3 separate regions of the Homo sapiens genome follow, and all the other regions are linked to region 3. Evidence: fine-mapped expression QTL. A gene starts in region 3. Each other region holds a variant in brackets. All regions are shown on one strand. Distances are between the middles of the regions.

The links. PIP is the estimated chance that this variant, and not a neighbour inherited with it, causes the effect. A credible set is the group of variants that fine-mapping cannot tell apart.
Region 1: its variant is the best candidate, but not a certain one, in a credible set for the expression of ABCA2 in whole blood (TOPMed, PIP 0.59).
Region 2: its variant is the best candidate, but not a certain one, in a credible set for the expression of ABCA2 in whole blood (TOPMed, PIP 0.76).

Annotation. Positions count from the first base shown.
Region 1 is chr9:137,097,175-137,106,782 of GRCh38, reverse strand. MAN1B1 (mannosidase alpha class 1B member 1) reads right to left here. Exons shown (of 13, transcript NM_016219.5): 5 at 8,846-8,955; 6 at 6,902-7,087; 7 at 5,630-5,778; 8 at 5,111-5,299; 9 at 468-658; 10 at 1-94. LOC124902313 reads right to left here and starts at 5,104. Exons shown (of 3, transcript XM_047424371.1): 1 at 4,871-5,104; 2 at 3,149-3,763; 3 at 1,807-3,111. The coding sequence starts at 3,551. The coding sequence ends at 2,573. The variant A/G (reference allele first, on the strand shown) is at 6,007.
Region 2 is chr9:136,981,457-136,991,064 of GRCh38, reverse strand. It overlaps PTGDS (prostaglandin D2 synthase), which reads right to left. Exons shown (of 7, transcript NM_000954.6): 7 at 9,323-9,486. LCNL1 (lipocalin like 1) reads right to left here and starts at 8,072. Exons shown (of 3, transcript NM_207510.4): 1 at 7,357-8,072; 2 at 6,502-6,575; 3 at 5,307-6,352. The coding sequence starts at 7,478. The coding sequence ends at 6,054. RefSeq lists a silencer at 534-828 and enhancers at 5,621-6,176, 6,177-6,734. The variant C/T (reference allele first, on the strand shown) is at 6,838.
Region 3 is chr9:137,022,209-137,030,601 of GRCh38, reverse strand. It overlaps ABCA2 (ATP binding cassette subfamily A member 2), which reads left to right and starts at 2,365. Exons shown (of 49, transcript NM_001606.5): 1 at 2,365-2,527; 2 at 6,366-6,459; 3 at 6,762-6,764; 4 at 7,550-7,661; 5 at 7,737-7,900; 6 at 8,124-8,251. The coding sequence starts at 2,462. It overlaps FUT7 (fucosyltransferase 7), which reads left to right. Exons shown (of 2, transcript NM_004479.4): 2 at 1-428. LINC02908 (long intergenic non-protein coding RNA 2908) reads right to left here and starts at 3,138. Exons shown (of 3, transcript NR_171031.1): 1 at 2,691-3,138. RefSeq lists enhancers at 1,480-2,224, 7,430-8,009 and a silencer at 2,108-2,287.

The sequences.
Region 1 (9,608 bases), 76 kb before region 3:
AAGCTCCCCCACAAAGGTGAGCTTACTGGGCTCGGAGTGCCGCAGCAGGTGCGTTCTGACACCCTCGATGGCTTCCACGTAGTCTTCCAGCAGCCTGTGGACACCAGCAGTCATCTCACTCTACCAGGACGGTGCATCGGCTCCCGTGGGGCACCAGGGACAGGCACATCCTGGGCCCACACAAGTACAGCAGGCCTGGCCCTTGCCGGACAGAAGGTGCCACCCTGCACAGCCCATGGCCCTCAGTGAAGATGCCCCCCTCACCCCCCCAGAGGCCACGGTGAGAGGTGAATGAATACGCCCTCCACATAAATGCCTGGGCCAGGCCTGGCACGGCTGCGGTTTCCTGACACACAGTGTGGCGGGGGGCAGCAGGAGCGGGGGCCGTGGGAGCTGGGGGCAGCAGGAGTGGGGGGCTGCGGGAACGGGGGAGCCGCGGGAGCTGGGGGCAGCGGGCCGGGCCTCACTGTGTCTCCTGCTTCCCGCCCTGGATCCACTGCTTCAGCAGGTACTCATAGTAGCTGTCGGCCCTGGCGCCCAGCGTGAATACGCCCAGGTGGGTGAAGAGGCCACTGTGGGTATTGATGAACATGGGCACCAGCCCATCCTTCTTCCCAGACAGGCCGTGGATGTGCTGTGTCACCTTCTCCACTGCCTCCTGCGGCAGAAAGGGGGATGGTGGGTTTACTGGCCAGGGCCGAGCTGCAGGGTGAGCTGTAGAGGGGCTCTGTGAGCTCTGCCTCCCCTCGCCCCAGCACCGACTGACTCCCAGCAGAGAGAGCTCTGTGCCCAGCCCACAGCTGTCCTTGCCCACATGGCTCCTGGTGGCCGTACCACACAGCCACACAGCCACCAGTGCAACGCACCTGAATGTCACTGCTCCCAACGGGTGGTCACCACAGAGCTGACCCATCTTCAGGATGGCTCTCATCCCTTACTCGAAGGGACAGCATCTGACAACCACAGGCACTGTCCTCACGAGAGCCCACCAGGCCTGGCCGTCAGCCATGGCTCTGGAGGGACGGCAAGTGTGCCTGCCTTCTGAGCCCAGTGTTGCTCCTGATGATATTAAACGCCTCGGCTCCACGCCCTCCTGGTGAGCTCCTACTCATCCTCCAAGTCACAGCCACCCTCAGCTCCTCAGGGCTTACGCCCAGCTGGCAGCACCAGGCGTCCTGGCCCACAGAGGGGCACAGGGTACCGGGATGTTAGGGCACGCCCAGCAAGGGCGCTCCGGGTCTCTACCCAACGCAGACACCCAAACCCATGCCCAGCACCTTCGAGGCCTGGCTGCCTATCCCTGTGTACCGGCAGCAACCAGAGGCCCTGGTGACATGGGGGTGCCCATGGGGGCCTGGGGCCATTTTCTGAGCTGCAGTGAAAACGCCTTCTAAATGTCTGCATGGGAGCCTCACGTGGATGGCGTGTGGGAGCCTCACGTGGATGGTGTGGGCTGCACTTCTCACCACAAGTGGTCACAGTTGCTCTAAAGAGGGCTGTGTCCAGCTCATGATTAAAAACAGGGACTCGAACATGAGGCCAAATACATGAGCAACAATAAACTGACCAGCTGTGCTTCATGAAAATGACAATCTGTTATCTATCAAAATACACCATTAACAAAGTAAAAAGAGGCCGGGCACAGTGGCTCACACCTGTAATCCCAGCACTTTGGGAGGCCAGTGGGTGGATCACCTGAGGTCAGTTCCAGACCATCCTGGCCAACATGGCAAAACCCCATCTCTACTAAAAATACAAAAAAATAACGGGGTGTGGTGGTGGGTGTGGTCCCAGCTACTCGGGAGGCTGAGGCAGGAGAATCGCTTGAACCCGGGAGGTGGAGGTTGCAGTGAGCCGAGATCGCGCCACAGCCTCAGGCAGGTGTGTGCACCCACACTCACAACACCCAAAACACAGCCTCAGGCAGGTGTGTGCACCCACACTCACAACACCCAAAACACAGCCTCAGGCAGGTGTGTGCACCCGCACTCACAACAAAGCAGAGCCTCAGGCAGGTGTGTGCACCCACACTCACAACGGCCAAAACACAGCCTCAGGCAGGCGTGTGCACCCGCGCTTACAGCAACCAAAACAGCACAGTCCTGGTGTCCACCAGAGGAGAGAGGATTAAACAAAAAGTGGCCTAGCCACGCAGCAGATATTCAGCCTGAAAAAGGAATCTCTGAAGCATCTTTCGCGTATGAAGCTTAAAGACGCTGAGTGAAAGGAGCCCAAATAAAAGGATAAATCAGCCGGGTGTGGTAGCTCACGCCTGTCATCCCAGCACTGTGGGAGGCCCAGGCGGGTGGATCACGAGGTCAGGAGTTTGAGACCAGTCTGGCCAACTTGGTGAAACCCTGTCTCTAATAAAAACACAAAAATTAGCTGGGCGTGGTGGCAGGCGCCTGTAATCCCAGCTACTTGGGAGGCTGAGGCAGGAGAATCACTTGAACCTGGGAGTGGAGGTTGCAGTGAGCTGAGATCACGCCACTGCACTCCAGCCTGAGTGACAGAATGAGACTCTGTCTCAACAAACGAAAACAAAAAAAGGACAAATCGTGTGTGACTGCACTCACACGAGGAACTCCACACAATGAGGTCCAGGAAGAAAAACCTGAACAGTGTTTTTCAGGGACTGGGGAGGGACATGAAGGGTCACTGTGTGATGGGAGAGCTTCAGTTTTAAGATGAAAAGGGCTCTGGAGATGGAAGTGATAGCTGCACAACAGCATGAATGTGTGTAACACCACTGACCTGTACTCCTGCAACAGCGTGAATGTAACACCACCGACCTGCATGCCTGCAACAGCATGAATGTGCAACACCACCGACCTGCACGCCTGCAACAGCATGAATGTGTAACACTACCGACCTGCATGCCTGCAACAGCATGAATGTGTGTAACACCACTGACCTGCACGCCTGCAAGTGTGAATGTGTGTAACACCACCGACCTGCAAGCCTGCAACAGTGTGAATGTGTGTAACACCAACCTGCACACCTGCAACAGTGTGAATGTAACACCACCGACCTGCACGCCTGCAACAGCATGTGTGTAACACCACGGACCTGCACGCCTGCAACAGTGTGAATGTGTGTAACACCACCGACCTGCACGCCTGCAAGTGTGAATGTGTGTAACACCGACCTGCACGCCTGCAACAGCATGAATGTGTGTAACACCACCGACCCGCACGCCTGCAAGTGTGAATGTGTGTAACACCAACCTGCACGCCTGCAACAGCGTGAATGTAACACCACCGGCCTGCACGCCTGCAATAGCGTGAATGTGTGTACCACTGACCTGCACGCCTGCAACAGCGTTGTGTGTAACACCACCGACCTGCATGCCTGCACCAGCGTGAATGTAACACCACCGACCTGCACGCCTGCAACAGCATGAATGTAACACCACTGACCTGCACGTCTGCAACAGCGTGAAAATGTGTAACACCACCGACCTGCACGCCTGCAACAGCATGAATGTACCACCGACCTGCACGCCTGCAACAGCATGTGTGTAACACCGACCTGCACGCCTGCAACACCATGAATGTGTGTAACACCACCGACCTGCACGCCTGCAACAGTGTGAATGTGTGTACCACCGACCTGCACGCCTGCAACAGTGTGAATGTAACACCACCGACCTGCACGCCTGCAACAGCATGTGTGTAACACCACCGACCTGCACGCCTGCAAGTGTGAATGTGTGTAACACCAACCTGCACGCCTGCAACAGTGTGAATGTAACACCACCGACCTGCACGCCTGCAACAGTATGAATGTAAGACCACCGACCTGCACGCCTGCAAAAGCGTGAATGTGTGTAACACCACCGACCTGCATGCCTGCAACAGCGTGAATGTGTGTAACACCACTGACCTGCACGCCTGCAACAGCATGAATGTAACACCACCGACCTGCACGCCTGCAACAGTGTGAATGTGTGTAACACCACCGACCTGCACGCCTGCAACAGCATGAATGTGTGTAACACCACCGACCTGCACGCCTGCAAGTGTGAATGTAACACCACCGACCTGCACGCCTGCAACAGCATGAATGTGTGTAACAGCACCGACCTGCATGTCTGCAACAGTGTGAATGTGTGTAACACCACCGACCTGCACGCCAGCAACAGCGTGAATGTAACACCACCGACCTGCACGCTTGCAACAGCGTGAATGTAACAGCACCGACCTGCACATCTGCAACAGCGTGAATGTGTGTAACACCACCGACCTGCACGCCTGCAACAGCGTGAATGTGTGTAACACTGACCTGCACGCCTGCAACAGAATGAATGTGTGTAACACCACCGACCTGCACGCCTGCAACAGTGTGAATGTAACACCACCAACCTGCACGCCTGCAACAGCGTGTGTAACAGCACTGACCTGCACGTCTGCAACAGCGTGAATGTAACACCACCGACCTGCACGCCTGCAACAGCGTGAATGTGTAACACCACCGACCTGCACGCCTGCAACAGTGAATGTGTGTAACACCACCGACCTATACTCCTGCAACAGCATGAATGTGTGTACCACCACCGACCTGCACACCTGCAACAGCACGTGTAACACCACCGACCTGTACTCCTGCAACAGCAGGAATGTGTGTAACAGCACCGACCTGCACGCCTGCAACAGCGTGAATGTAACACCACCGACCTGCACGCCTGCAACAGCATGTAACACCACCGACCTGTACTCCTGCAACAGCATGTGTGTAACAGCACCAACCTGCACGCCTGCAACAGCATGAATGTGTGTAACACCACCGACCTGTACTCCTGCAACAGCATGTGTGTAACACCACTGACCTGTACGCCTGCAACAGCCCAAATGTGTGTAACACCACCGACCTGCACGCCTGCAACAGTGTGAATGTGTGTAACACCACCGACCTGCACGCCTGCAACAGCGTGAATGTAACACCACCGACCACGCCTGGAAATGGTTAAGGTGGTGCGTTTTGTGTGTTTTATCACAGTAAAAAACCTGAAAACACACATGCACATACACACACACACACAGTACCTGCTGTGATGAGCAAAAGGTAGCTCCAGGGGAGGCGCATCCAGCCAGAAAGCCTGCCCCCTTACCTGAAACTTCTTATCCCCTGTGAGACGGGAGAGCTCCCGGAACTCCAGCTGAATGCTGGTCACCTCGGCCACAGTGCTGTCGGAGGTCCACCGTGGCGGGTGGGCAACTCCAGTACCGATGTTCACATCCGAGTAAGGAATCTTGGATGGTGTTCTGAAGGCAGGCATTAGCCGATTTCCAAAATCCTCCTGGTATATGAGCAGAGTAGAGAACCAACGTTCAGGTCACCCAGAGGCCTCGTCTACACCCTTTCATGCAGTTCAGTGGAGACACTGAAGGCTCTCTGGGGTCAACACAGCAGCAAGGAAACGGGCATCACTCTGCACTGAGTGAATGTCTCTACAAGGCCAGTGGTGATCAAAGTGGCTTCATCAGCTCACGAATATGAGCTCAGAAACAGACTCCAGTGCATTTGAAGAGGAAACAGGAAGACAGTCACGTCCCCACAAGTCCACTAAAGGGGTAACTGCTTGAATGCGAGTCCACCATCTCCCTGCAGGACACCCCAAGACACTTACAGCTTTCCTCAGGAAGAGGCTGTCCCCAGACAGGTGGTAGGCACTCAGGAGCCCCCCCAGGATGCGGATCGTGCTCTCAAACAGGTTGACGTCCACGTCCTTTTCAAAGTGTAACTTCTTCGACACCCACTTCCTGGCTTCCTCAAATTCTATGACATAAAACAGTAAAGGATGCAGAGACAAATGGATGGCTCCAACGTTTTCCTATTATCTATCCATCTTCAAAATACATTTGGCTGGGCGTGGTGGCTCATGCCTGTAATCCCAGCACTTTGGGAGGCTGAGGCAAGTGGATTGCTTGAGCCCAGGAGTTAGAGACCAGCCTGGACAACATGGGAAAACCCCATCTCTACTAAAAACACAAAAATTAGCTGAGT[A/G]TGGTGGCGCATGCCTGTGGTCCCAACTACTGGGGAGGGTGAGGCATGAGAATAGCTTGAACCCGGGAGGCGAAGGCTGCAGTGAACTGAGATCGTGCCACTGCACTCCAGCCTGGGCCACACCACTAGACTCTGTCTCCAAAAAACCCACGTTTGAAACCAGGAGGCCAAGGTTGCAATGAGCCGAGATTGCGCCATTGCACTCCAGCCCAGGAGACAGTGAAAGACTCCATCTCAAAAACAAAAAAACAAAAACAAAAAACCAAACCCATGTCTGGGGCGTTATCGTTCCCCTGCAGGGCTTCAATATCACCTCCTATCTCAAGGGGGTAAATCTTGAAGTCGTCAACATTTGTTAATAAAACGGAGTCAGCAGTGCAGTTGCTATGGCCACCAATGGGTCACAACCAAAGGCTACGACCCAAAAAAATTACACACGTCGTTTACTGGTGGTCTTCAACCTATTCAAAAAATTAGGCAAATGTTTAAATTATCGCTTAAATAACCGAAGACACATACTCCCAATTCAAAGTGGATGTGCTGGTCTATGAAGGATGCTGCTGAGATCTGGGACCAGCGGGGCCCCACAGTCACTCATCCCACCACCCCCAGCTGCAAGAGAAGCACAGCCTGGGAATGTCCCTTGGACGTCCCCCAAAGAGTCCACACTCAACTCCTGCAGAGGTCTGGGGACAGCGGCCCTGTGTGTGCCTTGGGTGGCTGGACAAGAACAGGAACTGACCACAGCCAACACGTCCACTCCCGCACCCAGGAGAAGGGAAAACCCATGGTCAGATGCAAACAGCAGCTTTCACCCCGTGTGCAACCCACACTCTGCCTCAGCACACGAGGCCCACACGGAGGGCTCAGCCCCTCCCCAGAAAGCACCAGGTACCTTTCCTCAGACCCAAGATCCACATGGTGTCCAGCGCGTCGATCAGTGTGAGACCGAGGCCAAACCACTCACTGAAGGACCTGGACACAGGCTTCAGCTCGTCATGGCCCCATGCAAACTTGCGGTATCCTTTCCATGCATGCAGGAAGACGTCAATCACGCCCTTCTGGCGATAGTTCAGATGCACTAGTAGGGGGGAGAGAGCACAGGCCATGGCGGACGTGGTCCTGGCGTCGGCACAGATGGACACCCTCAGGCAGAGCACTGCTGTGACCCCCATGGGGCAAAGATGACGGTGGGTTTGGGACGACGGGAAGGGCGGTGGTGGGCACAGCAAAGGCCAGGGCCACAGAGGCTGCAGCAGCCCCCAGGGAGAACACAGCCTGCCAAGGGCCTGAGACCTCTGGAGACTGCACAGGATGGCACCTGTCACCCGACCACCTGACTGGGGCCCATGCACCTCCACCTGGCGCCTGGGCAGGCACACCCTCCTTGGGCCTCGGTGGCCTCTGGCCAAAGGGACAAGGGTGGCTGCCCCAAGGGCGCTGGGACAGCACAGTGAGCACAGCCTGTGGAGACGTGGGTGAGTGTGGTGCCAACTCAGAATGTGAAACACGGACGGGTGCAGACCTCGCGATGAACATCCTCGACTCAAACACGCTCCTTCTGCCACGTGGGCTTCAGGTGCTCCACGGGAATCGCACTGTGCACACGCGCTACAGTCCCTTCGTTCCCTTTTTTTAAATTTTTTTGGCTGGGCACGGTGGCTCCCGCCTGTAATCCCAGTACTCTGGGAGGCCGAGGTGGGCAGATCACCTGAGGTCAGAAGTTTGAGACCAGCCTCGCCAACATCGCGAAACCCCGTCTCTACTAAAAATACAAAAATTAGCCAGGTGTGGTGGCGGGTGCCTATAATCCCAGCTACTAGGGAGGCTGAGGCAGGAGACTTGCTTGAACCCAGAAGGCAGACGTTGCAGTGAAGTGACAAAGCAAGACTCTGTCTCAAATATACACATATATATAAATTTCTTTTTTTTTTGTAGAGATGGGGCCTCACTGTGTTGTCCAGGCTGGTCTTGAACTCCTGGACTCAAGAGATCCTTCTACCTCAGCCTCCCAAAGTGCTGGGATTACAAGTGTGAGCCACCACGCCCGGCCAACATTGACTAATGTGTGGATTGACACGTGTGTAACGGCACCAAACCACACGTCCTCTCAGGAAAGGTTCTGAGGCCTCCTTGTGCTCATGGCATGTCTATGCCTCTGCCTCTGCCTCTGCCCTCATTGATGCCGCAGAGATTGCTACACATCCCTCACAGGCCCGGGGCTGGGAGTCCTGGCTCTGGGCTCCCTCCCCACCTCAGAGACACCTGGGGGGCATGATGAGAGCAGGGCTCCAGACTCAGCGACCTGCCATGAGCCCCCACAGACAAGCAAACGACTCTGGGGGTGGCTGTCCTCAGCCCTGCTTTTCAGTCTGGAGAACGGGAGGGTGAGTGGCTTATCGTGTCAGAGGGTGTCATGAGGTTGAAAGAGGCCTCAGGTCATGCACTGAGCTTGGCCGAAGGCCCGCACCTGGGAGGCCCCCAACAAACGGTGCTGAGAATGAAGTGGCCCCCAGAGCTGCCTGGGACTGGCCAGGCCGAGACAGGGGACACAGCACGGGCAGCAGTCTCCAGGGATCCCGTGGGGCAGCCTGGCCCAGACACAAACCTCTCAGACACACCTTCTTCTGCAGCCATGTGCTCAGGGACAGCAGGCCAAGAGCCACATGGTGTCACCAAGGTTGCAGAGCCTGTGAGGACTCAGACAACAGGGGGATGCTGAAGGGCAAGGTGCACACCAGGGCGGGGGCGCCACCCACCATGGCTGAGACGAAGCCTGCACCCATCAGCCACCAGCCCCTGAGCGCCCGGGGAGGAAGGGGTGCAGGTGTGGCCTCACCTGGTGTGCCCTGTGTCCTGGCCGGTGGCAGGGGAGGCTTGGTGGGCACTTCTGCTCTTCTTGAAGGGAGCTCGGTGCCCTGCTCAGGCTCGATCACCGCTCCCCTCCAGCTTCGGGGGAGAAGGAAGGGTGTCAGCTGCCGTCAAACATTTGTGGCTCCATGTTTCCCACCCCCACGCTCCATACCCACGGCCAAGGCACAGCCCTGCACCCAAAGCGGCCCCATCATCCTGAGGTGCAGGCTGCTGAGTGGCAGGAAACACACAGTTCAGTCCTGAGCTCCCGTGCCTGAGAGCCAAGACCACAGCACTGCTCCAGGGTCAAGGCTGGCCTGAGGTCAGAGACCAGAGCTTGGAGAATCGTGAGAAATCCCTCTGCAGAGGCCGGAGGCGGGGGGCCTCTATGGTGGAGGAGTAGAGAATCTTTCATCCAAACAGGAGCACTAGTGACAGTGAGGTGGCCCCAAGATGCCAGGATGGCCACACAGACGGGGGCTGTCCCTACACACGAGACGCATGGCCACTCAAACTCCCCATCGAGTTCTGTCCAATGGCCATCAGGAACAGCTATGAGGTTGTGTAGAGGGTTTGCCGCGCAACCTCCTAACTGTGGCTGGGCCCGAGCGTTCTCTTGGGGCCCTGTGGTGAATCTGTCCCAGGATCAGCAAAAGGCCTCTTACAACCACAGATGGCTTACATGCTGGGAGTACAAACGTGGCACTTTTGACAAGCTGAGGTCAAATCCTCTTTTGCTCTGGAAGTAA
Region 2 (9,608 bases), 40 kb after region 3:
TCCTTCAGGTCTTTACTCAAAAGTCACTTTAGTGAGACCTTCCCTGGTGTTGTTCTGACATTGCAGCATGCTGCCCAGCTCTCACATCCCTCTCTCCTGTCATTTCCCTATTTTTCACACTTCTCACTGTAGAAAGTACACTTTGGCTTGCTTTATTCTGGCAGCTAGCTCCCTGTTATACCCTCCTGGGTTTAGACTTTTCTGCACTCCCCTCCCCTTGGGCTGGACTTTATTAATGACTTGCTTCTGGCAACTAGAATAGGACAAAATTGCTCTTGAATTGCTGGGTGTGACATGAGGCAGCCCTAAGGGGATGACCATGGCCAGCAAGGGAACCGGGAAGCTGACGCCCCAGCTGAGCCTTCCCATGAGACCACATCATCGGCCGGCAGCTTGACCACAGCCTCCTGAAACTTTGTGTCAAAGGCCCAGAGTCCTGCCTGGCTGACACTGGGAGATAATGCATGCCTGCTGGTTAAGCAGCTGCATTTGGGGTAACCTGTCACTCTGCAGTAAGTGACCACCAATACACTTATTTACCCTGCTTATTGTCCATCACCCCAGGAGGTCCATGAGGGCAGGGATTTCTGTCTGTTTTACCTGCCAGTGTATCCGTCTCTTCAGCGCTTACACAATGGCTGGCACATACAGACACTGAATAAACATTGTGAATGAATGAATGGGGGGTGGTGGCTGTTGGAGGTTTAAGCAGGGGTGGATGGGAAGTGGCACGTCTGACTTATGTGTGTGAAGTCCGTATTCTGTGCTGTGAGGAGAGAGGACGGGGGCTGCAGAGGAGAGGGGTGGACCATGGGCTCGGACTGGAGGTGGAGGGAGGAGGAGACAAAGAACAATCAAGGATGGCCCTGGCATTTGGGAAGAGTGGAAAGGGGAGATTCATCCCCAAGATGACTGGGGTGGGGCAGATTTGGAGAGGACTGGGGGGCCTCTTCTTTGTCATGTGAACTCTGAGATGCTGGCTGTAGCAGGCCCCAGATATCAGGCCCTAATCCCTGGGACCTGTGAATGCTATTGTCTATGGAAGATGCTGGGCACTGCATTCCAGCCTGGGCAACAGAGTGAGATCCTGTCTCCCCTTCCCCCCAAAAAAAGGAAAGAAAAGAAAGGAGTGTTTGCAGATATTCCCTTGAGATGGGGTGATTATCCTGGATTGCCCAGGGAGGCCCTCAGTGCCATCTCAAGGGCCTTTTAAAAGTGAGGCAGAGGAAGCTTTGAGACAGAAAAGAAGGCAGCATGGCATGGAGGGAGGAACTGGAGCGATGCAGCCCACAAGCCAAGGATTACAGGCTGCTATCAGAAGCCAGTGTTGTGACCAAGCGAGTTATACAGAAACGCCACACTTTGAGACAAATTAAAGAGTCCGTTATTAGCCGCGACTGAGAGGCAGCTAACGCTCAAAATTCTCTCGGCCCCGAGGAAGGGGCTAGTTTTGTTTTTATACCGTGGTCTAAATAGGGGAGGGGGGATTTTAGCTGAAGCAATTTTTACGGAAGCAGAACTGGCAAAAAGTTAAAAAAATTAATTGGTTACAAATGCAGTTACAAAAAATAAACAGTTCCAGGTGCAGAGGCTTAAACTATCACAAAGAGATAAATGCAGGGGTTTTGGGTGCCATCCACCACGCGTGTCCCCAGGAGCTGCTGGTGCAGCTTGCCTCAATGTCTTATCAGTAGGTGCATTCCTGGACGTGCTTTGAGTCAGTTTACACTAGCTATGCCTTCAGGGAGGAAGGTGAAAGGGGGCCGCAGGTGAAGAAACTAAAATGGAGTGTGTCCGGCTCTCTCTCTGCCAGGAGAGGGTCACTCAGGTGGAAACAAGGTAGGGTATCCCACCAGAAGAGGCCAGGCCCAGTGGCTCATGCCTGCAATCCCAGTGCTTTGGGAGTTCAGAGTGGGAGGACTGCTTGAGGCCAGGAGTTCAAGGCCAGCCTGAGCAAGACAGCAAGACCCATCTCTAAAAAGAAAACATTAGCCAGGCATAGCGATGCATGCCTGTAGTCCCAGCTACTTAGGAGGCTGAGGCAGGAGGACTGCTTGAGCCCAGGAGTTCAAGGCTTCAGTGATCTGATCGCGCCATAGTACTCTGGCCTGGACATCAGAGCAAGACTCTGTCTCAACAACAACAAAAAAAGAAGACAAAGAAGCTAGAAGAGGCAAGGAAGGTTTCTCCCCTAGAGCCCTCGGAGGGAGCACAGCCCGGCTGATACCTCGACCCTATTAAACTGATTTTGAACTCTGGCTTCAAGCTACAAGTTTGTGATAATTTGTGGCAGCTGTAGGAACTGACACAAGACCAGAAACAAAGATTAGTTCCAAAACATGACGAGAAAACTGCAAAACCTTCATTTAACTAGCCTCAGGCTGGGTCCGTGTGGACCTCAGGTGTTTATTTTACACTTTGGCTCACACCCTGGTGTCATGTTCTGTTTCGTGGCTCACATCGGGCCAGCTTCATCTACTGGCAGCAGCTTTTCCACTGGCTTCCACCACGTCCTTCTCTGAGATACTTTTTTATACTTTTTTTTTTTTTTTTTTTTTGAGACGGAGTTTCGCTCTGTCGCCCAGGCTGGAGTGCAGTGGTGCGATCTCGGCTCACCGCAACCTCTGCCTTCCAGGTTCAAGCGATTCTCCTGCCTCAGCCTCCCGAGTAGCTGGGACTACAGATGCCCACCACCACACCTGGCTAATTTTTGTATTTTTTAGTAGAGACAGGGTTTCTCCATGTTGGTCAGGCTGGTCTCGAACTCCCGACCTCCTACCTCAGGTGATCCGCCTGCCTCGGCCTCTCAAAGCTCTGAGATTACAGGCATGAGCCACTGCACCCAGCCATGGGAGCAATTTTCTTTAATGTAGGATACATTAATACAGTGTATGAGATATAAGGTTAGTGGAGCTTTGCAAGCAGAAGGAGAGGGATTACAAAGTCCCCACGCACACACTTGAAGTCGGTGATGGAGGCAGAACAGGGGAGGGAAAGGGCTGACCTTTCCCAAGGCATAGAGCACCTGGAAGCTGGGCCAAAAAGAGGAGCAAAAGGTCCGGAGAACGAGCTCTAGGGGAGTGGGGGCCAGTCAAGTTTTGGGGTAGCAGAGGTCAACAACCAAGGGAGGTATTTGAGCAAGACTTCAGAGACGGGAGTGAGTGCACTGAGTGGCACTGGGAGAAGGGCAGTCCAGGCAGGGGTGACCTGGGCAAAGGCCCTGAGACACGTGAGGGGCTGGCAGCAGGACGGAGGGAGGGGAGTGGATGGTGGGTCAAAGGAAAGCCTAAAAGAGAAGACCTTGTTGGCCACCATCAAGACTTAGGCCTGAGGCCGGGCATGGCGGTTCACGGCTGTAATCCCAGCACTTTGGGAGGCCGAGGTGGGTGGATCACCTGAGGTCAGAAGTTCAAGACCAACCTGGTCAACATGGTGAAACCCCGTCTCTACTAAATATACAAAAATTAGCTGGGCGTGGTGGCGGGCACCTATAATCCCAGCTACTCAGGAGGCTGAGGCAGGAGAATCGCTTGAACCCGGGAGGCAGAGGTTGCAGTGAGCCAAGATCGCGCCACTGCACTCCAGCCTGAGCAACAAGAGCGAAACTTCGTTCCAAAAAAAAAGACTTAGGCCTTTACTCTCAGTGCAATGGGACCCACTGTGGGGTGCTGAGCAGGGGGGCCTGATCTGACACATCTTGTGAATCCATCCCCTGGGCTTCTAGGTGGAGAAAGGGCTGAGCGTGGGAGGTGAGGGACTCGATGCGTCTGCAAGGGATTGGGGGCTGACCACAGCTGGACCCACAGCCACCCCCAGAGGCTGCCCCACCCTGGAAGGAAGGAAAGGGCATCCCTGAGGCTGTGGAGGGCAACCTGCATTTCCCGGCTCGGAATCTTCCTGGGAATGCAGGGGGGATGCAGAGCCACTGTGCTCCGCCGAGTGGTGTTTTTTTGTTTTGTTTTGTTTTTTTTCTGAGGCAGAGTCTCGCTCTGTGGCCCAGGCTGGAGTGCAGTGGCACAATCTTGGCTCACTGCAAGCTCCGTCTCCCAGGTTCACGCCATTCTCCTGCCTCAGCCTCCCGAGTAGCTGGGACTACAGGCGCCCGCCACCACACCCGGCTGATTTTTTGTATTTTTAGTAGAGACGGGGTTTCACCGTGTCAGCCAGGATGGTCTCGATATCCTGACCTCATGATCCGCCCGCCTCAGCTTCCCAAAGTGCTGGGCCCGGCCCGAGTGGTGTTTTTTAATAACAAATTTTCTGGGCTGGGCCCAGTGGCTCACGCCCGTAATCCCAGCACTTTGGGAGGCCAAGGTGGGTGGATCGCTTGAGGTCAGGAGTTTGAGACCAGCCTGGCCAACATGGCAAAACCTGTCTCTACTAAAAATACAAAAATTAGCAGGGCGTGGTGGCGATCACCTGTAATCCCAGCTACTTGGGAGGCTGAGGCAGAAGAATCACTTGAACCTGGCAGGTGGAGCTTGCAGTGAGCCGAGATCGCACCACTGCACTCCAGCTTGGGCGACAGAGCGAGACTCCATCTCAAAAAAACAAACAAACAAAACTCTGACCAACTGAGAAGGAGAAATCAGAGCATACTGCACCCCGTAGACCCATCACCCAGATTAAACACTATCCAAATATTCACAGATTTGCAACCAGTATTTTTATTATTATTTTGCTGAACTAGGTACATTACAGCTAGTAGGCTATTTTCCTTCAAATTCTTCGAGACTTGTCTGTAAAAGACAACACTGTCCTACATAGACTCCAGGCAGGGCAGAGTTTTATGCGGCTCCTCCTGTCCTCCTCGCCCTCCACTCTCCGTGGACAGGCCCTGGGTCAGAGTTGGGAGCGCTTCGTTGGTCTCCGGAACAGCCAGGCCTCTGGGGCGGGTCCTGGAGCCAGGAGTCAGGGGCTGGGGAGCTGGGGGACCCGGAGGGGCGCCTGGGGATGGAAGCCGCCGACACTGACTGGGGCAGCCGCTTGGGAGGACCCGGAAGGCCACGTCGCGCGGCGGTGTCCGCTGAAGCCTGGGGCGCGCGCCGCGTGGTGTCCGTGTCCCGCCCTCCCGGCGCCCCCAGTCTGGGGGTCTGGGTCCGTGCGGAGGTAGAAAAGTCCCAGAGCTGGGGCTGGGGCCCGTCCTGAGGAACCTCCCTGCCACGGAGCCGAGGCTCGGTCCCTCCTGGGCTAACGCCTACCCAGAGGGGCAACAGGGGGTGACCCGGCCCCTCCCCCAGGGCGCCCATGTACCTGGCCGCCCCCCCGCCACCCCTCCCTGCCCCCAAGAAACGCACAGCGCCACAGGCATTCAGGGTGTTTATTGCGCTTGGGGCCAGGGTGTGGAGGGAGGGGGCTCTTTGGGCAGGGCTGGGCGCACGGAGCAGCTGACCCCTGCGGGCACTCAGGGGCTGGACCCCTCACTGCAAAACAAGGAGCAGGTGGGCGGCGTCCCCTGCCTCCGCCCCCTCCCGACGCGCAGCCCCGCGGTTCCCCAGGCTGCTGCGGCTCGGATCCGCCCGGGTGCCCCATCACCCCCGCTGTCGTCCCTAGCTGCCCCGAAGGTAGAGGGCCCCGCGGTGCAGCCCACCGAGCTGGGAGGGCCCATGGTCCGCGGCTCCGCATGGCCATGGTCTACTCACCCGGGAGAGCGCGCCCGCACACTGGTCTGCAGAGAGATCGAGCCTGAGGCGCCACCCCGCGCCCCCTTCCCTGGGACGGAGGCCCCCGACCTGCCCCAAGGCGATCTCCTCCTGGGAACACCGGCCTGGGCAACGTCTCGCCCTCCCCCGACCCAGACAGGCTGGGTCTGCCCCGGGCACTTCTGTCCCGAATCTGAGATCAGTGGAGTGACCAGGGCCTGGCCCTTCCAGCAGGGGTGTGACCCGGGGCCTGGCCCTCCCAGCAGGGCTGCCGGCACCGCTCACCCGACTTCGGCAGCAGGACGCCCTGGCTGGGGCTCAGGCCCACTTGGGGCGCCAGTAGCTGCATCTTCTGGGCGCCTTCGGGAAACAGCTCGGGCGCTCGAGCTGAAGGTGGGGAGGGCGGGTAAGCTAAAGGGAAGGGGCTGGAGGGGCGAAGAGAGGGAGAGAGGGGCAGGGAGGGGCCGGGACCCGCGGCCACAGACACCAGGAGCCAGCGGTTCCACCTTCCGCGTGCAGAAAGGGCTGGTGCAGGCACAGGGGTGACATCCCAGACCCGAAGCGGGGGTGTCTGGGTCTCCGCCCCGCAGCCCGCCCACCGTAGAGCTGCAGCCACTGGTTCCGCAGGCCCCCTTTCCGCATCTCCAAGTACAGCAAGGCAAAGTGCTGGTAGTCGGAGAAGGCCACTCGGATGTCACTCAGGGCCATGGCTGGAGGAGCGAGAGCCGCTGACCCCAGGCCCAGGGCACCTCCCCCCCGAGCGTGGCACCCCTCACGCCCCGGCCCCAGGTGCCAATCCAGCAGTCCATGCAGCCTCCAGGGCCCCCACGCCACAGCCCTGCCTGCTGCCCCACCTCACCTGGGTTGCTGAACTGCCCCGGTACAGCACCCTCGGTGAAGGTCGTGTCCATTTTCTGGCACCCGCCATGGGGCCTGGGGAGAAAGAGCCCCAATCCCCTGAGTGGCCACCCCTGCCCAGCGCCCAGGCCTAGAGCCTACCTTGCTGTCTCTGAGCCCAGGGTCCCCTGTTCACCCTCACAATCCTTAGAGGACATGGGACTTTAGGATGACCTTAGAGGTGGGGACACTCCTGCTGGGGGTGGGGTGGGTATTAAGTACCTGTTCACAGGCACACAGCCTAGAATGCAGGGCCTCCAGGTCCCCCTTCCAGACACAGACACACAGAAGACACACA[C/T]ATACACACATGCACACACACGGAGATAGACACAGACACAGACACACTGACAGACACACACATAGACACGCACACAAGACACACACAGAGATAGACACACACAGCCAGACACAGATACACAGACACACAGACACACAGACGCATACAGTGATACACACATACACACTCAGAGGTACACATCTACAAAGACACACATGCATACACACGCACACACAGACACACACACATGCAGAAATAGACACACATACACAGAGACACAGCCACATACAGTGATACACACACAGACACAGACATGCAGACACTTTTCTCAACACCAGGCCTCAGGCAGTGCTTCCTCCAGGGCCTGGGTCCCTCTGGACTCCGTGTGGCTGCCATCTGGGGCTCTGCCGCACAGAGCCGTCGAGGACCCGTGGTCTGACCTCAATGTGCTGGGGACACCATGGTCCCTCTGGACCTTCATGTGGCCTCATGCTGGCCATCCTCTGAGGCTGAGTCTGATGGGCTCGTGTGGTCACTTACGTGGGGTATCCAAACTTGAGGGCCAGGTCACCATTCCCCAAGGGGGTCACTAAGACCACAGCCATCTTCATGGTGTCCTTGGAGTCCAGGAAGTCCTGGTCATCTGACACCACCCCGACCATGTACCAGGTGCCCTGGAACTGCAGGGCAAGTGCAGGGAAGGCTGGGAGGCCGCCCCTGTGCCCTGGGCCTGAGCCCACCACATTCTGCCCCGACACAGCTGCTTCCTGGCCACGGCAGGGGCTGCTGTACACATCTCGACCCCGATGCAGAACTGAGGGAGGGGGGCCTCAGTACATGAGCAACTGGCCCCCACCAGCCCAGCACCGGCCTGTCTGCAGCTGGCACCCAGGGGGTACGGCTGGATGGGTGGGGCTGTGGCAAGGTCACAGGTCTTTGTGGGGTGGGTGGGGGACAGTGAGGCACAGGCAACCAACTTGTCCCTATTTTGGGCCCTGGGGATTGTTGGGGGATGCAACTGAAAAGGTAGGATGGAGGCTGCAGTCTTCCCCAGCCAACCCCTACTCCAGTCAGACGGAGCGGGTGAGGTGGGGGTTTCCCCTGCCCCTAGCCCTGCTGAGCCTGGATCAAAGAGGGTGTGGACAGGGACCCGGGGTGCAGCACCAAAGCCGGGAGGACTCATTGGAGATGAGGAGGAAACAGGGCTGGGCACACCTGGCTGGCATCAAAGTTGGCCTGGATGGGGACCTGGGCCTGGCCTGGGGATGCCCAGAGCAGGGCAAGGAGGGAACTGATCAGCAGAGCCCGAAGCATCATGCAGCAAGATGGCATCTCCTCCGGACACGGGAGCAGGGCAGAGCTGAGGTGGCTCCTCTGTAGGCTTTACGCCCCTGAGGTGCCCTGGGGCGGCTGGCCTGGGACTGCACCCACTGTGACAGGCTTCTGATCAAGTTGCACCCTGCAGCGCTCTGGCCTGGCTCCCTCCACCCAACCCCAGCCATCCGTTGCCTTTCCTCCGGGGTGGGGCCGGATGCCTGGCAGCTGAGGGTAGTTCTGACGGGCCTCTGGGCTAGGGGGCCTGCAGCTCACCCATCCTGCCTCTTCGGCCTTCTGCAGCCCCTCTGGGATGTTGGAATCCCCCCTACCTTGAGCTCAGGCACAGCCCTAAGCCCCCTTCTCCGGGAAGGCCACCCAGAAGCTCACCCTCACCTCCGAGCCTCAAAATGCTTGGTGCCTCTGCAGGGTCTGCCTCGGGGGGGCCTGGTGGGCAGGTCACAGTGAGTCCTGCACATTGTGTACCTGAGAATGGCTGCCTGGGTGGGAATCTGGAAGGGAGCAGGGTTGGGCAGGGCACTGGCCGGGCATGGTGTGGCCGTGGTGCCAGGGCTCTGGTGAGTGGACAAGGCTGTGATCTGGAGGCCCAGGTCAGAGGGCAGGGGGCGCACAGGGAGCCAGAAGGGATATGGGGTAGCCTGTCCCCAGCCCACTCTGTCAGTCTGTCCTGATGCGGGGTGGAGACACTCTGGCATGTTTCAAACAAATGTTTCTTTTTGTCCCCTGAAACCCTTATCTCTGCCCAATCTCAGTGCGTTAATCCCACACCTCAAGATACCCAACAGGTCCAAAGCTCCTCTGGGGCCTCGAGCCTCAGGCCTTTACTGCTGAGGGGGTGACAGGGTGGCGTTGGGGGTGCAGGGCACCTGCCTAAGGGATTAGCTGAGTCACTGACCCCCAGCTCAGCACCGGCCTGGTGGCAGTGGCAGCTGAGGGGGTATGGCTCGACGTGTGGGGCTGTGGGGCAGGGGCACACGACTGTGTGGGGTGGGTGGGAGACAGTGAGGGACACCCCCTCCTAGCTGTCCTGACTCAAGACCCCACTGGGAGCAAACACTAGAGGGCCTGTTCCTTTGTTGACGTCAGGCTGAGATTTTAGAGGGGGAGGTCCGGGTGGCCAGGGCCAGGCCCAGGACGGGTGATGACAGCGCAGACAGCCAGGAGCCAGCTCTACTGACTTGCTTCCGGAGTTTATTGTGCAGGATGAAGCCTGAGTGGGCAGGGTTGCTTTGGCGGGGAGCCGGGGCAGGGGCTCGGGGAAGGAACAGAGCAGAGACATCCAGAGCGTGGGGGTCACCTGGCTGGCCGGGATCCCAGCTTCAGCCCTGGGGAGTCCTGAGGGGTGTGACCGAAAGGCTAGGATGGAGGACTGCAGTCTACCCCAGCCCACCTCCACTCCAGTCGATGGAGCAGGTGCGGGCTACGGGGACTTTTCTCTGCCCCCAGCCCCACTGAGC
Region 3 (8,393 bases):
CACAGAGGTCAGGAAGCAGGGGTGGGGGGTGCAGGTGGGCACTGGAGCATGCAGAGGAGGTGAGAGTGGGAGGGAGGTAACGGGTGCCTGCTGCGGCAGACGGGAGGGGAAAGGCTGCCGAGGACCCTCCCCACCCTGAACAAATCTTGGGTGGGTGAAGGCCTGGCTGGAAGAGGGTGAAAGGCAGGGCCCTTGGGGCTGGGGGGCACCCCAGCCTGAAGTTTGTGGGGGCCAAACCTGGGACCCCGAGCTTCCTCGGTAGCAGAGGCCCTGTGGTCCCCGAGACACAGGCACGGGTCCCTGCCACGTCCATAGTTCTGAGGTCCCTGTGTGTAGGCTGGGGCGGGGCCCAGGAGACCACGGGGAGCAAACCAGCTTGTTCTGGGCTCAGGGAGGGAGGGCGGTGGACAATAAACATCTGAGCAGTGCCTCGTGGGTCTGGCCAGTGTCTCATGGGTCACCTCCGTGCAGGGCCACAGAGCCTGCATCTGCCCTCCCCTGACATGTCGCCCCCACGGCCATGGGGCTGCTTGTTCCCCACGGGGGGTCCTGTCGCCTGACTTCTGGGCCTTTGCTCACCCTCCGCCTGAGAGCCCTCCCTGTGCCGGGCTGCCCACTGGCTACCCCAGTTCCTACAGCCTCCGCCAGACGGCCCCTTATCAGAGAGCCTTCTGTGTCCCCCAAAAGGCCAAGGCGATGAGCCCAGGAGTTCGAGACCAGCCTGGGCAGTGTAGTGAAATCTCATCTCTACCAAAAATACAAGAATTAGCAGGGCGTGGTGGCTCACGCTTGTGGTCTCAGCTACTTGGGATACTGAGGTGAGAGGATGGCTTGAGCCCAGGAGGTTGAAGCTTCAGTGAGCCGTGATCACACCACAGCACTCCAGCCTGGGCAACAGAATGAGACCCTGTCTCAAAACAAAAACCAAAACAGGCCAAGGTTGGGGAAGAGTAGGGAACGGACGTCAGAGGCCTGGCCAGGCTGAAATCGCCCATCTCCCAGGCCCGCAGGCTGGAGGGTGTCTGGGGTGACAGGGTCTGACCTGTGCCTTGTAGCTCCCTCTGGTGGCCAGTGCTGGGGAGGCACTGGGGATGCGGCTGCAGCCAGGGAGCCCCTGTAGTGGACGGTGGAGAGTGGGGCGAGGAGGAGAGAGGCCAACCCACGGGTGGTGCTGACCAGGGCCCCAACAGGCTAAGCCCCCGGGGCTGGGGCACAGGGCTTGTCCCTACCCCAGGTAGGGGTGGGCAGGTTGAGGGCAGGAAGCCCCCCTCACCCATGGCTGTGGCTTGTGGGAAAGACCTGCTGGTAGCTTCCTGCCCTGACCCAGCCCTGTGGACTGAGCAGAGAAAAGCAAGTGCCTTGAGGCTGCGGGCTGGGGTGGGAAGCTGATCCCTCACTCACTAGCCCAGGGTCACCTTCCTGCTGCAAAGGAGCTGGGAGGAGTGGGGAGCTGTGGCCTCGGAGGTCTTCATTCACTTGAGGATGCGCCTTCTATGTGCGCCCTGACACTGGACACCACACAGCGCTACTCCACCCCATTCACAGGGGGGAAACTGAGTCTGGGAAGCGCCGTCAGAGCCACCCATGGGGTCAGCCTGTCCTCTGTCGCTCTCTACAGGCCACGCGGAGGAACTGCCCCACCTCCCGGGGCGCCCCAGCAGGTGCCAAGCCACAGCCGCAGAACCGCCTGATCCCGAACTCCCTGTGCAGAGACCAGACTCGCCCGAATATGGGGAGAAAAACGAGCCGCGTGCAGCAGGGGCCGCCTCGGTCCCCTGCCTGCTCCGCTCACGGCGAGCGTTCCTGGGGCCTCGAGTTTCCCCCCTTCCGCTGGCTGCTCGGAATCGCGGGACGGACCCACCTGGCCGCCCTGCCTCCCTTCCAGGTGGGCACCACCTGGACTCCAAGTGCTGGTTTACAAAGCACACAGGAGACCCTTACGGGGGTGAGCTGGCCCCTCGCCAGCGTCCGCTCGGCGCGCCCCGGGGACAGTGAAGGCTTGGGGCGCCTCTGCAGAGTCGCCAGCGCGGTGGGCGCAGCCGGATGCCTCTGGGAGAAGAGCGCAGCGCCCGAGGGTCCCCCGGCCTACGAAGGCTAAGCCGGGGTCTCGGATTCGATGTGGGCGCGTCGCGTGACGCCCGGCGAGGGGCGGCCCGGAGGCTTCCCGGCGGCGGCGCGCGCAGGGTCTCGGGCCCGGGTCGGTCCCGGGCGCGGCGCGGGCGGCGGGCGCCTCCTGGCGGGCGCGGACGGAGCGCGGCGCCTTTAAGCGGGGGCGGGCGGGGCGCGGGCAGAGTCGCTGTCGCCGCGGCCGCCGGGGCGGAGCCAGCGCGGATCGGGTCCCGGACGCCCGAGCGCCCCGCCCCCGCGCGGGCGATGCCCAGCGGCGCGGCGGGCTGCGGGGCCCGGCGGGGCGCGCAGAGGAGCGGGCCGCGGCGCTGAGGCGGCGGAGCGTGGCCCCGCCATGGGCTTCCTGCACCAGCTGCAGCTGCTGCTCTGGAAGAACGTGACGCTCAAACGCCGGAGCCCGGTGAGCCCACCCCACGCGCCCGCCCTCAGCCCGAGGCCGCGCGCACCGCGGCCAGAGGCGCGCTCCCCGCGCGCACGTGCGGACGGCCGGGCGCGCGCAGACCCCGGCGGGCGCTGGGGGCGGCGCGGGCCCGAGCCCCCTCCCCGCCGGGCCCTGCCCTCGCCTGCCGGCGCTGCGGCCTCCGGGGAGGTGGCTCGGTCGTGTCCAGTCCGGTCCCGCGTCCGCTGACATCGCGGTGCTCGGCTGAGTCACGGCACCCGCGCCCTCTGCAGCGCGCTCGCTGGGGCCGCTGTGGGCGGGGGGCAAGCGGCGCTCAGGACTCTGGCTCGAGGGAGGCCCTGGTTCCCAGGACAGAAGGCAGGCCTGGGGGGCTCCATTCAGCTGCGAGGCTCCATGGTCCTTGGGCCCAGCCTCCCTGGGGTCCCGGAGGAGACCCTGTCCCTTCCCTCCGTCCACCCCTCCCCTGCCCTTGGGCCGCGGCCTGCCATAGAGGTTGGTCCCAGGCATCTCTCCGCCTCCCCTCCTGGCACATCCGTGACCCTTGCTCATGCTCTCGCCACTGGGAATGTCCTTGTGCCAGCCTTGGCCAGCCTGAATCTCTGCACCCATTTGTCCTTTGGGGTCAGTTCTCCCCGAGCCTGATCCACTCTGTTGCCTCCTGGTCCCCCCACCTGCTCTGGGGGCTGGGTCTACTGTTTGGAGCTGTGAACCCCGGCTTTCCCAGCACTGCCTGGGCAGCCAGTGGACCTGAGGGTGCAGGACACATGGCTGTCAGGGACAGAAGTCCTTCGTGGAGCGAGGGGCTTGGGGATATGGGTGTCCTGCCATACCCCCAGCTGGCCAGCTTGGCTCCAGCCTGGGAAGGGAAGGGACACCTCCCAGGCCACAGGCCTGGACCAGCTTAGGTTTCTGAAGGCCCTTGGGATTGTCCAGGCCAGGGCTCAGAGCAGGTGGGGGCCTAAGGCAGACATCCTCTTGCCCAGCCAGGGCCCGGGCGGGACCCCTTGGGCTGCACCAGTCCGTGCCTGTTTATCTTTCAACATGCACTGCAGGAAACCCAGGCTGCAGTCAGCTGGGGTGGCCATCATCACCATGGCTGGCAGAATTCCCCTGGGCACCTGGCCTTGGCGGGGAGCCTGGGTTAGGTACATGCCCTGGCCAGGCACCTGGAGCTGGCTGAGTGGGGTCCCATGGATCAGGCCTGCAGCCCCTGGCATTGAGTCACTGGGGACAGCAGAGCAGGGCCAAGGGAACAGGGATGTGGCATGTGGCATGCATTAGTATTAGTCCCCGGGGGTGGTTGTCAGGAAGGTCCCCACTGGGCTTGGGAGCAGAGGCTGGAATGGTGGCCCCTGTTCCAGTGGGGACAATGCTCAGGGAAGGGAGTGTGGCCTATGAGGGCAGCTGGCAAGCAGGTGGGAGGTGTGCACTGTCCTGACCGCAAGAGTGACTCCCAGCTGCTGGTTTGGGCTGCCCCCCAGGACCTTTTTGGGTCCCCACCCTACAGGGCTCCCAGAGGCCCACTGGGCCACAGTGGAGGTCCTTAGCCCATGGCTGGAGCAGGTGGGGAACTGTTTCCCCCAGGGAGGCTGAGTCCTTGCCAGGCTTGTGATGTGGGGCTGGGGCTGGCTGGACACTGGGCACACTCCTGCTGGGTCCCCACTTTCCTGGGAAGGATCTTGGACATCAGAGCTGGACTCTTGGGGCCAAGCTTGGATGACAGAGGTTTGCCCTGTGTGCCATGCGCCCTGCTGGGGCAGGGGTGCACCCTGGGCAGAGCTCCACCCTGGGCAGAGCTCAGGGTCTGGAGGGTGGGTGCCAAGGACCTCTGTGCTGCTAGCAGGCTCCTCCAAGCTCTTTGCCTCAGTTTCCCTGTCTGTGAGTGTGGCCTATCTCCTCTTAGTTAGCTGGACTTGGGTCTACCCTTGGGCTACAGGCTGCTCTTGGTGCAGGGACAGGGTCACTGTCATGAAGTCACTGGGATGGCAGATGGCAGCGCCACCCTCGGGTCTCACCTGTTCTCCCCCCGACACAGTAGGCGGGAGCTACAGGGAGGGGTCATGCCCAGAGAAGGCATCTAGGCCTCCAGGCGATGTGAAGGCACTGGGCTGGTCTCGAGGGACGGAGGTTGGGCCACCTGGAGGCACCTGTGTGGGGCACCCAGGGCGTGCTAGACCTGTGCTGCCGCCTGTAACCAGATGCTGCTGTGGCGCCCGCCGCCTGCCAGCCAGGACTCTCCTCCTCCTCCCAGTAGCTCGTGCGAGGCCGTTGCTATAGCAATGGGGGAGGCAGCCGGGCCTGTTGCTGCAGTTACAGTGCCCATAGCAGGCCGGGTGTGGGCGGGGCTGGCGCCCCGTGCTGTGACCCCTGCCTCTGACATTGCCTCACTCCTGCAGCCACCCTCGCCCTGGTGCCTGTTGGTGCCCACAGTGCCTTGGCGAACCCTGGGCTCCGTCCTGGCTCAGGGAGCGGGTGGAGGCTGGCACGGGCTGGGGCGGGCATGGGACACCCACAGCATGATGTTCCTGGCCACAAAGCCCTATTGTCCAAGCACAGTAAACACAGCAGCCGCCCCCACCCCAGGGACCGGGGACTCGGCCCGGGCCACACAGCACACTGGGGGCTCTGAAGGGTTTTGGGATGGGGATGAGGACAAAGGATGCCTCCGAGCTGGGTGCTCGCCCTCGGGCTAGGGAGGGCAGGGCCCCTCTGTCCTGTGGGTCTCAGAGAGGGCTGGTCTGCCGAGGGCTCTCTGGAGGGTAGCTGGCTCAAGCTCCTCCTCCTCCCTGAGCTGGGGGCTGGGACACAAGAACCGGTAAAGTCCTTGGTTTTCAGGTGAAGTGAGCAAAGCACCTCTTTCTCACTCCACGCAGGTCCCACTAGGGCTCACCTTGGTGCCCAGCCTGGGTTAGCAGGAGCCGACCTGGGGAAACTGAGCTCCAAGGCCCAAGACTGGCTGCCCCGGGTCAGGAGAGGGGACAGGGCAGAAAGAGGTGCCTTTGGGCCAGGTGTGGTGGCTCACGCCCAGGTGGGCGGATCACGAGGTCAGGAGATCGACACCATCCTGGCTAACACGGTGAAACCCCGTCTCTACTAAAAATACAAAAAATTAGCTGGGCATGGTGGCGGGCGCCTGTAGTCCCAGCTACTCGAGAGGCTGAGGCAAGAGAATGGTGTGAACTTGGGGGACGGAGCTTGCAGTGAGCTGAGATCGCACCACTGTGCTCCAGCCTGGGTGACAGAGTGAGACTCCGTCTCAAAAAAAAAAAAAAAAAAAGGTGCCTTTGCTTCAGGGACTGGGGCTGTTAGACCCCTTACCAGGTCTTCTCCGAGGCTCAGGGCCCTGGGCGCAGGCCAAGCCTCTCAACCAGGCCTCCTCATCTCCCCAGGCCCCGGTATTGGTGGGGAGGAAGTGGGAGGAAGGTGAACCCGGGGCAGTGTGGGAAGTGTAGGCGGGGCTAGTGGCTCAGATGGTCCCCAAGATTTTGCCCAGGTAGCCCTGGAGGTGGGGAGGGAGAAGATGAGCTGGGATATACATGGGTCAGAGTAGACCACAAGCTGGCCGATTTGTCCCTGTAGGCCCTGAGGCTCCTCAGAGGGCACGTAGGCCCAGTGTGGGCTGGGGACGGGAAACCTGATTTGCTGAGCCAGACAATCCTTACCCTCAGTGCCCTGGAAGGGGCTCAGACCTTCAGTGGTTCCGAAGGGCCTGTGCCCACCTTCCCTGGCCCCAGGGAGCACGTGGTCCTGTCTGGGCTGGGCCAGCCCTATGGGAGGCTGGGGAGGGCCTAGGCGAGCACAGGTCTGTCCTATCCCTCACTGGGCCCACCCTTTCCAGTGGGTCCTGGCCTTCGAGATCTTCATCCCCCTGGTGCTGTTCTTTATCCTGCTGGGGCTGCGACAGAAGAAGCCCACCATCTCCGTGAAGGAAGGTGAGTGCGGCAGGAGGCCCCAGGCACAGCCGGGGGAGCGCGGCACCTCGCACGCCTGCGCTGTGTGTGCACATCTGCACACGGGTGTCCTGCTCCCGGAGTCCCTGAGGTGCGGTGCCTGCTCCCCTGTGTGGTCCTGGGCCGTGCCTCCTGGCTGGGCTGTGGAGGTCGGGGCTGGCCTGTGGCCGCGAATGATGATGCCAACGCCTCTTCCTGGTGATGTGGGCACTCACTGGTCTCCTCTGTTCTGTTTTGATCCCCCTCCCTCCCCGCATGGTCTCTTGTCCTCGGCTGGCATGCAGTCTGTAAGTGAGCGGCCACCTCCTCCTGGCTGGCCTGGGCAGCAGCTGCGGGGGGCCCATGGGCCGTCCTGGCTTGAGCGCCCTCCCCGCTTGCATTAACAGCCCTCCCGGGCCCCCTGCCGGCCTCAGGAACAGCTGGCTCCAGATGGGGGGTGGCAGGCAGTGAAGTGGGAGGTGGTAGGGAGTGAAAGGCCCGGCCACCTAAAGGCACAGCTGGTGCCTGGGTCAAGCTGAGGCGGCATCTCTCTGCCTGGCCTTGCCTTCTAGGGCTGGGGTGCCTCGGCTTCTGGGCTGAGTCTGGGCTGAGGCTGGGCTGGCCTGGGCTGGGGCTGGAGCGGCCTGGCTACTCTCCCTTCATACTCCTTCAGGCTCTTGCACTCACTCTGCTAACCAGCTGGCCAGAGGTCAGAGGTCACTGCCCAGAGGGGGTCCTTTGTCCTCCCCTGGGCTCTGTAGGCAGTGCCACACCTGAAACGTTTTCGGGGGGAGAGTGCCAGGGCATGTGGGCCTGCACTGGCTGAAAGGAAAGGAATGCTCTGGGAGTTATGGCAGAAGGGGTGGTGAGTGGCTCTTTGACCTCTGACCTGCTGGAGTCATTCGCCCCAGAACGCTTGGCCTGTAGCCCAGCTGGGGCCAGGGCTCTGTGCCGCCTTCTCCCTAACGCTGCTTCTCCTTCCTGACTTTCTCTAAATTTCTCCTCTCGGCCTCTGTCTCCCTCCCCTTCTGGATTCCTCTCTCTCTCTCTCCCCTTTCACCCCCGACCCTGCCCTCTCCCGTGGGTCTGCCAGCCTTCTACACAGCGGCGCCCCTGACGTCTGCCGGCATCCTGCCTGTCATGCAATCGCTGTGCCCGGACGGCCAGCGAGACGAGTTCGGCTTCCTGCAGTACGCCAACTCCACGTGAGTGCCCACCCGCCCCTCGGAGCACCCACCCCTCCCCAGCCCATCCAGTGAGTGACATCCGCCATGGTGCAGGGTCACGCAGCTGCTTGAGCGCCTGGACCGCGTGGTGGAGGAAGGCAACCTGTTTGACCCAGCGCGGCCCAGCCTGGGCTCAGAGCTCGAGGCCCTACGCCAGCATCTGGAGGCCCTCAGTGCGGGCCCGGGCACCTCGGGGAGCCACCTGGACAGATCCACAGGTGTGCCCTGTGCAGGGAAGTTGGGGGGCAGGGCTGCGGGCAAAGCTCTGCTGTCACTGGGCTGAAGCCCACATCCACTCTGGGCCCCTCCACCTGCACTGAGTTCCCAGCCACGCACAGGCTGCAGTGGCAGAGCTGTGGTGTTGGGCTCGGCTCCGAGCGCATGTGGGGGCACCTTGCCAAGGTGCAGCGGCCTCTCAGCCTCGCCTTCCTGCCTGTCCAGTGTCTTCCTTCTCTCTGGACTCGGTGGCCAGAAACCCGCAGGAGCTCTGGCGTTTCCTGACGCAAAACTTGTCGCTGCCCAATAGCACGGCCCAAGCACTCTTGGCCGCCCGTGTGGACCCGCCCGAGGTAAGGCAGGGACAGCTCCCAGCCCTGGCCACTCCCTTCTGCCCCAGCCACGCCCCCTGGTTGCTGAGCCATCCTCAGGATGCTCAGCCTGAGTCACGCCCAGACCGTCTGAACCTTGCCCCCACCATCTGAGCCACGCCCC